2 separate regions of the Homo sapiens genome follow, and region 1 is linked to region 2. The links come from fine-mapping of genetic effects on gene expression. A gene starts in region 2. The other region holds a variant in brackets. All regions are shown on one strand. Distances are from middle to middle. Region 1 overlaps JAK3 (Janus kinase 3). Region 2 holds the start of JAK3 (Janus kinase 3).

The links. PIP is the estimated chance that this variant, and not a neighbour inherited with it, causes the effect.
Region 1: its variant is the best candidate, but not a certain one, in a credible set for the expression of JAK3 in whole blood (INTERVAL, PIP 0.83).

The regions. Positions count from the first base shown.
Region 1 is chr19:17,824,888-17,828,887 of GRCh38, forward strand. It overlaps JAK3 (Janus kinase 3), which reads right to left. Exons shown (of 24, transcript NM_000215.4): 24 at 1-2,023. The coding sequence ends at 1,856. Among named protein-coding and RNA genes, the nearest start is that of INSL3, 5.4 kb to the left of the region's middle. The variant CAGAG/C (reference allele first, on the strand shown) is at 1,628.
Region 2 is chr19:17,846,180-17,850,693 of GRCh38, forward strand. JAK3 (Janus kinase 3) reads right to left here and starts at 1,803. Exons shown (of 24, transcript NM_000215.4): 1 at 1,767-1,803.

The sequences.
Region 1 (4,000 bases), 22 kb before region 2:
GGACACAGACACTTCCCCAGCCCCAGGGCCAGAGTGGGGCTGGAGGGAAGGACAGGGCTACAGTAGTAGTGGGGGTATATGAGGGAAGGCTGCAAGGATGTGGTAGCTGGAGTTTTGAGAGATGGATAAGAGTTTTCCAAGGAGGCAAAAGTGGCAGAAAAGCTTTGCAGGTGAGGAGGAGCAGCAGAAGCTTAACCTGCATGAGAATCCCTCTCACCAGTCAGAAAGTTGACCCTGCACAGCCAAGGGGTAAGCTCTGACCATTTTGCAGGGGACAGAACTGAGACCCAGAGAGGGAAAGGAACTTGCCCACTGTCACACTGCATGGAAGGGGCAAAACTGTAGGCTCCAATACTTGGGCTCTTAACCTCCTTACTCTGAGCCTTCTCACGCTTGGCATGCTGTTCCCTCTGCCAGGAATGCCTTTCCTTCCCTTGATTGCGTGAAAAGTTCCTGCCAGGTTTGGTGTCATCCCTTTGTGCCCCTTGTAGGGTGAGGACAGAAAGGGTCCCATTGGACAGGTGGGAAAACTGAAGCCCTAGGACACTCAGATACCATTAGGGTGGACTGGGACCCCAGCCTTTCCTGCCCCCTTTCAGGATCCCAAAGAGATACACGGGCTCCCCTAAAAGGCAGAGTCCCAGCCACAGCAACTGCTCTTGTCCTTGGCTTCCTCCAGAGAAACAGAGATCGGGGAGCAGAAGTCAGATCATACATTTAAAGCTACATGAGGGCCGGGCGCAGTGGCTCATGCCTGTAATCCCAGCACTTTGGGAGGCCGAGACGGGCAGATCACGAGGTCAGGAGATGGAAACCATCCTGGCTAACAAGGTGAAACCCCGTCTCTACTAAAAATACAAAAAATTAGCCGGGTGTGGTGGCGGGCGCCTGTAGTCCCAGCTACTTGGGAGGCTGAGGCGAGAGAATGGTGTGAACCCAGGAGGCGGAGCTTGCAGTGAGCCTAGATTGCGCCACTGTACTCCAGCCTGGGCGACAGAGCGAGACTCCGTCTCAAAAAAAAAAAAAAAAAAAAAGCTACATGAATGTCCCCATTGGAAATAAGACAGGAAACTCAAAACTAGGTGCTGTAGTCCCAGCTATTTAGGAGGATAAGGCAGGAGGATCACTGTAGCCCAGGAGTTCAAGACCAGCCTGGGCAACGTAGCAAGATCCTGTCTCTTAAAAATAATAATAATAAATTTAAAAAAAAAAAAGCCTGGGTGCAGTGGCTCATGCCTATTATTCCAACACTTTGGGAGGCTGAGGTGGGAGGATCACTTGAGGTTAGGAGTTCGAGATCAGCCTGGCCATCATGGTGAAACCTCATCTCTATTAAAAATAAAAAAAATTAGCCGGGTGTGGTGGTGCACACCTGTAATCCCAGCTACTCGGGAGGCTGAGGCAGGAGAATCGCTTGAACCTGGGAAGCAGAGGTTGCACTGAGCCGAGATCGCACCACTGCACTCCACCCTGGGTAACAGAGCGAGGCTCTGTCTCAAAAATAAAAATAAAAATAAAAAAAATAAAAAGAGAGAGACAGAAAAGGAAACTCAGGGGGCCAGGGCTTAAGGGGTTGGGAAGATGCGAGAGTCTTAAATTTGGTTCCTTGCTTCTTTGGGCCAGGACT[CAGAG/C]AGCCCCACTGACACATATGCCCATCTGTCTTGAACCTTAACAAATTGCAAAGGCCACAGGCTATTCTACAGGCCACGGGAGCCCCCCCAAATGCAATGTCATGGGGGTGTTCCTGAAGTAGAGGACCCTCATAAGGCCTCTGAGGCCCAGAGAGGGGCAGCTCCGGGCCTAAGGTCACACAGCCAGTCAACAGAGACCTAATCCAGAGGTCTGCGGGCAGGAGCTATGAAAAGGACAGGGAGTGGTGTTTGCCCTCTGGGTGAGCAGTGAAGGCATGAGTCTCACACCCCCGGCTTCCGCTCCACAGCATGTCCAGCTGGGGGCCCAGGGCGCTGAATGATGGCCGGTCCTGTGGGCTAGGGGCCCAGCACAGCTTCATGAGCTCGTGAACCTGAGGGGCGGGGGACAGATAATGGGGTCGTGCCTGAGCAGTCCAAAGGACACAACTCCCATTCAGCGTATTTGTTTTTGTTTTTTTGAGACGGAGTCTAGCTCTGTTGTCCAGGCTGGAGTGCAATGGCATGATCTCGGCTCACTGCAACCTCCGCCTCCCGGGTTCAAGCAATTATCCTGCCTCAGCCTCCTGAGTAGCTGGGATTATAGGCACGTGCCACCACGCCTGGCTAATTTTGTATTTTGAGTAGAGACAGGGTTTCACCATGTTGGCCAGGTTGGTCTCAAATTCCTGATCTCAGGTGATCCACCTGTCTTGGCCTCCCAAAGTGCTGGGATTATAGGCATGAGCCACCGCACTCATTCAGTTTTAAAACACAAATTAAATTCCATCCCATCTCTGCTCCAAAAACTCCCATGGCTCCCTATGGATCTTACTTATTTATTTATTTGAGATAAAGTTTCGCTCTTGTTGCCCAGGCTGGAATGCAGTGGTGCGATCTCGGCTCACTGCAAACCCTGCCTCCTGGGTTCAAGCGATTCTCCTGCCTCAGCCTCCCAAGTAGCTGGGATTACATGCACACACCGCCACACCTGGCTAAGTCTGTATTTTTAGTAGAGACGGGGTTTCACCATGTTGGTCAGGCTGGTCTTGAACTCCTGACCTCATGTAATCCACCCACCTCGGCCTCCTAAAGGGCTGGGATTACAGGTGTGAGCCACCGCGCCCAGCCCTTATGGATTTTACAACACACTTCTCCTTTCGAGACTACCCTGACCAACATGGAGAAACCCCATCTTAACTAAAAAAAAAAAAAAAAAAAAAAAAAAAAAAAAAAAAAAAAAATTACAGGTGGCGTGTGCCTGTAATCCCAGCTACTCGGGAGTCTAAGGCAGGAGAATTGCTTGAACCTGGGAGGCGGAAGTTGTGGTGAGCCGAGATTGCGCCATTGCACTCCAGCCTGGCCAACAAGAGCAAAACCACGTCTCAAAAAAAAAAAAACAACAAAAAAACACCACCTCTCCCTGATGCCCTCCTTCGCTCATCTCCATCCCTCCTTCCCTCATTTGTTCCGGGCAGTCACATCTGCCTCCATCGCACTGGTGCTTAAAGGCACCCAGCTCATTACCTCCCCAAGGCCTTTTTCCCTTCCGTGTCCTCCACTGGAAATTTCTTCTCCTAGCTTTACTCATGGGTAGGCTCCTCCTCCTTCCAGCGTCGGCCCCGTAAGAGGCCCTCTTTGACCACCCCCACCCCACCATTTCCCTCTGTTCATCTCTTTCAAGGCACTTATCACTACCATAATTTTGTCTTTGTTTTGTTTTGTTTTGTTTTGTTTTGTTTTGTTTTGTTTTGTTTTGAGACAGGGTGTCACTCTGTTGTCCAGGCTGGAGTGCAGTGGTACAATAATGGCTCACTGCAGCCTTAACCTCCTGGGCTCAAGCAATCCTCCTGCCTCAGCCTCCCTGGTAGCTGAAACCACAGGTGCATGTCACCACACCGGCTATTGCTTGTATTGTTTGTAGAGACAAGGTCTCACTATGTTGCCCAGGCTGGTCTTGAACTCCTGGGTTCCAGTGATCCTCCTGCCTCAGCCTCCCTAGTAGCTGAAACCACAGGTGCATGTCACCACACCGGCTATTGCTTGTATTGTTTGTAGAGACAAGGTCTCACTACGTTGCCCAGGCTGGTCTTGAACTCCTGGGCTCCAGTGATCCTTCTGCCTCAGCCTCCCAAAGTGTTGGGATTATAGGCATGAGCCATCGTGCCCAGCCTAGAATGTTCTTATCAGATTTTGCTAGTTACTGGGAGGACAGGGTCTTCAGCACCCAACAAGTCCTGGCACACAGTTGGCACTCAATAAATGTTTTTGGCCTGAGCAAATTAATTTATCAATGACCAACTGCATGTCAGACACTTCCACAAAGGTTATGATTATATGATTATAAACCATGAGAGGGTGGGATGTGGTGG
Region 2 (4,514 bases):
ATGGGCTGACTCCCCAGCATCCTCATTGAGGTGGTCTGCTGAGCGCAATCCAGGCCTAAAGTGTCAACTCAATTAATGTGCATTAATTTGTATATTTCTTGATGATGTGCCGGTAAGCGATCAACAAACGCCTGTTAAACCAAACAGGAAGGGCAATTGGCACAGCGGTGTGGTGGTTACTGTGGGAAGGGAAGTCTTGTGGGGGAAAGAACCTTACCAAAGGGACACTTTGATGTCACCGATGCCCAGACCAAGAATGAGCACATTCCTAGTCCCGGGAACCTTGGAGGAGCCCCATCTCTCCCACAGAGAGATTGATGTCTAGTTTTGCCCTTTATAGAAATAAAATCACACACCATAGCCTCTCTATCGTCCCCTCAACATCAGCCAATCAAGTTTTTTGGTTTGTTTGTTTGTTTTTTTGAGACGGAGTCTCGCACTGTCACCCAGGCTGGAGTGCAGTCGCACGATCTTGGCTCACTGTAGCCTCTGCCTCCTGGGTTCAAGCGATTCTCATGCCTCAGCTTCCCAAGTGGCTGGGATTACAGGCGCGCACCACAGCGCCCAGCTAATTTTTGTATTTTTAGTAGAGACGGAGTTTCACCATGTTGGCCAGGCTGGTCTCAAACTCCTGGCCTCAGGTGATTCGCCTGCCTTGGCCTCCCAAAGTGCTGTGATTACACACGTGAGCCACATTGCCCAGCCTTTTTATTTATTTATTTATTTTGTAGGGGGGAGGACGGATTCTTGTTCTGTCTCCCAGGCTGGAGTGCAGTGGCATGATCTCGGCTCACTGCAAACTCCACCTCCCAGGTTCAAGCGATTCTCCTGCCTCAGCCTCCTGAGTAGCTGGAATTACAGGCACCCGCCACCAAACCTGGCTAATTTTTGTGTTTTTAGTAGAGATAGGGTTTCACCATGTTGACCAGGCTGATCTCGAACTCCTGACCTCCAGTGATCCGCTGGCCTCAGCCTCCCAAAGTGTTGGGATTAAAGGCATGAGCCACTGTGCCCAGCCCCAGTCGAGTTTAAAATAAGGCTTCAGTGGCAGTGGCGCCCCACTGCAATCCCAGCTACTCAGGGGGCTGAGGCAGCAGGATAGCTTGAGGCCAGGGGTTAGAGACCTGCCTGAACAACATAGCAAGACTCCCATCTCCAAAACAACAAAAAAATCTTAACAGAATATTATTATTCTGTAATACTGTAACAAAAAAAAATGAAAAGTCAGAGGTGATGTTTGGTCCCAGAAAACGCCATAGTTTTTTTGGTTTTTTAAAAATGTTTGTAGAAATGGAGGTCTGGCTATGTTGCCCAGGCTGGCCTTGAACTCCTGGCCTCAAGCTATCCTCCCGCCTCGGCATCCCCTGTTTATAATCCTCAACGTTCTGCATCCTGGTATGGTCGGGTACCCTGTGTCTGGACCGGGAAGGCCTGGAGGGTAGGGGCTGGGAACTCCGCCCCCCAATCCCTCCTTCCCAATCCCTCCTCCCCACCCCCAACCCCGCAGCCCCCGTCGCGCATGCGCAATGACTCCTCCAGGTCCGCAAGGCAGGCATCTCCCGGCCTTAGTCAAAGCCGAAGCCCAGAGAAGCGAGCGATCGGAGGATGCGAGTCTCGGCTCACGTCTGCCTCGCAGCTTTCCTCCGAGGCCTGGAAGGCGAGCTAGCCTTTGCCCTGGCAGCACCCTGCCCCAGCCCAGCCATCCCCCGCCACCACCATCCTCCCCCAGTGTCTGGGCCGAGCCCTGCGGCATCGCCAGCTCTTACCTAGCGGGCAGGGACCCTGGACTTTCGAAGGGCGGGCAGAGCCGGGAGGCAGCGAGAGGAAAGTCCCACTCGGCTCCTTCCTGTGTGGGCCCCTTGGTTTCCTGAGCCACTGTCATTTACCGAAAGTCAGGGCCCTGCGGGAGCTGGGGGCGGGGAGGCGGGCAAGGAGGGGCAGAAAGTTCCGGAAGCCTCTGCATCAGCCGCCCCGTTCAGACAGGCTGCTGGAGACCCCTAAGCCAAAGGAACTGATGATAGCACAGAGAAGGGTCTGGGTCACACCAGGGGCTCAGCCGACTCTAGACCCACTTGTTAAGTGGGGCTCTGGCCCGGCCCTTATTGCCTCAGTTTACCCATCTGTAGCATGTGTGAGTTGGGCACCCAGTGGAACTAATTTTGCACCCAGGGAAGGAAACCTGGCTGGATTTGCCCAGGAGGGAAGCAGGGAAGTTGCCCCAGAGGAAGGTCAAGTTCTTCTTTGAGGTATTTCTCCCTTAAGACTCAGGGAGACGCTGGGCGCAGTGGCTCACGCCTGTCATCCCAGCACTTTGGGAGACTGAGGCGGGCGATTACTTGAGGTCAGGAGTTTGAGACCAGCCTAGCCAACATGGCGAAACTCCGTCTCTACTAAAAATACAAAAATTAGCCAGGCGTGGTGGCCTGTAATCGCAGCACTTTGGGAGGCTGAGGCGGGCGGATCACTTGAAGTCAGGAGTTTGAGACCAGCCTGGCCAACATGATGAAACCCTGTCTCTACTAAAAACAGGAAAATTAGCCAGGCCTGGTGATGCCTGTAATCCTAGCTACTCAGGAGGCTGAGGTGGGAGGATTGCTTGAATCTAGGAGGCGGATGTTACAGTGAGACGAGATGGCGCCACTGCACTCCAGCCTGGCAACAGAGCGGGACTTCGTTTAAAAAAAAAAGAAAAGACTCAGGGAGAGATAATGACCCATTTCTGCCTGTGGTGCCCTGGGCCCAGCCCTAAAAAACCAGGTGGATCCGGCCTGGCCTCTTGGAACTTGTGATCTGGCGCTGAGACAATGAGCAAATGAAGGAGCCAAATCATCGCAGACAACAAAGAAAGCCAGGGTGTCAGGACAGGCACAGACTGGAACTTGGACCCGAGGCAGGACAGGGAGCTGGCCAGGGAAAGGGTGCTCCAGGAGGAGGGCACAGGATGGGCAAAGACCTTGAGAGGGCAGTGATCTTAGCAGCTTGAAGAGCAGTCAGGAGGCCAGGGGCAGGGGTGAGATGAGGGGGAAGGGGACTGCAGGGCGGTCAACAGGGGCAAGATCGTGGGGGGACAGGGGGATCAGGGTCTTTGGGAGAAGGGTGGGTTTTGCCTGGAGCATAATCTGGAGCCACAGGAGAGTTGGAAGTAGGAGCTGTTATAAATAGAAGAGGCAGAAGGCCCGGGCAGCATCCAAATGCAGAGACTTGGGCCAGTGTTCTTAGGATAATAGGATCAGAGCCCCGGAAGTAGAGCTTCAGGAATAGACTGACGAAGTGGTGACCGGGTACAGTGGCTCACATCTGTAATTCCAGCACTTTGGAAGGCCCAGGTGGGAAGATTGCTTGAGCCTAGGAGTTCGAGACCAGCCTGGCCAACATGGTGAAACCCCATCTCTACTAAAAATATAAAAATTAGCTGGGCGTGGTGGCATGTGCCTGTAATCCCAGCTACTTGGGAGGCTGAGGCAGGAGAATCACTGGAACCCAGGAGGCAGGCGGAGGTTGTAGTGAGCTGAGATTGTGCCACCGCACTCCAGCCTGGGCGACGGAGCAATACTCTGTCTCAAAAAAAAAAAAAGGAATAGATTTAAGAAGTTGTGGCCAAGAACAGTGGCTCACACCTGTAATCTCAGCACTTTGGGAGGCTCAGGCAGGAGGATGGCTTGAGCCCAGGTGTTCGAGACCAGCCTGGGCAACATGGTGAAACCCTGTCTCTACAAAAAATACAACAACAACAAAATAATAAGCTGGATGTGGTGGCATGTGCCTGTAGTCCCAGCTACTAGGGGAGGCTGAGGTGGGAGGATCACCTGAGCCCAGGAAGTTGAGGCTGCAGTTAGCTGTGGTCATGCCACTGCACTCCAGCCTGGGCAATGGGAGTGAGATCCCGTCTCAAAAAAAAAAAAAAAAAGACTTTTCATCTCTGTATCACCATCACAAGTCTTAACACAAAATGGTTTGGTAAGTATTTTGTTGATCTTAACTGTTCAATCAGCCAGAGGCTTATTGGACACAGCCTGTGTGCAGGGAATCGGGGACAATGCAGACCCAATCCCTGTCCAGGGGAGCTGACAGTCCAGCAGGGGAGATGGCAATAAACAAGCTATTGCCCAATAATTATATCAGTTGCCCCTGGGACCGGTCTGCTAAGAGAGATGACTGGATCTGGGAGGGCTTCCTGGAGGAGGTGGCTTTGATTCTGAAATCCAACAACAAGTGGGACTAGCCAGAGAGTGACCTGAGAATGTGGGAGTGTGGGCAGTTCTGGCAGGCAGAACAGCCCAGGCAAAGGCCTGGAGGCTTCACGAATTCACAGTGTTCCTGAGAAGAGCAGGATGTCAGGGACACGGGGGGCTGAGACTCATTTGATGGCGTGGGTAGGGCCGCGTGGGTCAAGGGAAAGAGATATAGATTATGTCCTCAGCTTAGTGGAGCTTAGTGGAGCCACAGCTGACCTGCGGCAGGAAGTGCCAAGCAGAAGCTTAGTTGTAGTGTTTTCTTTCACTTCCTGGGTGGCT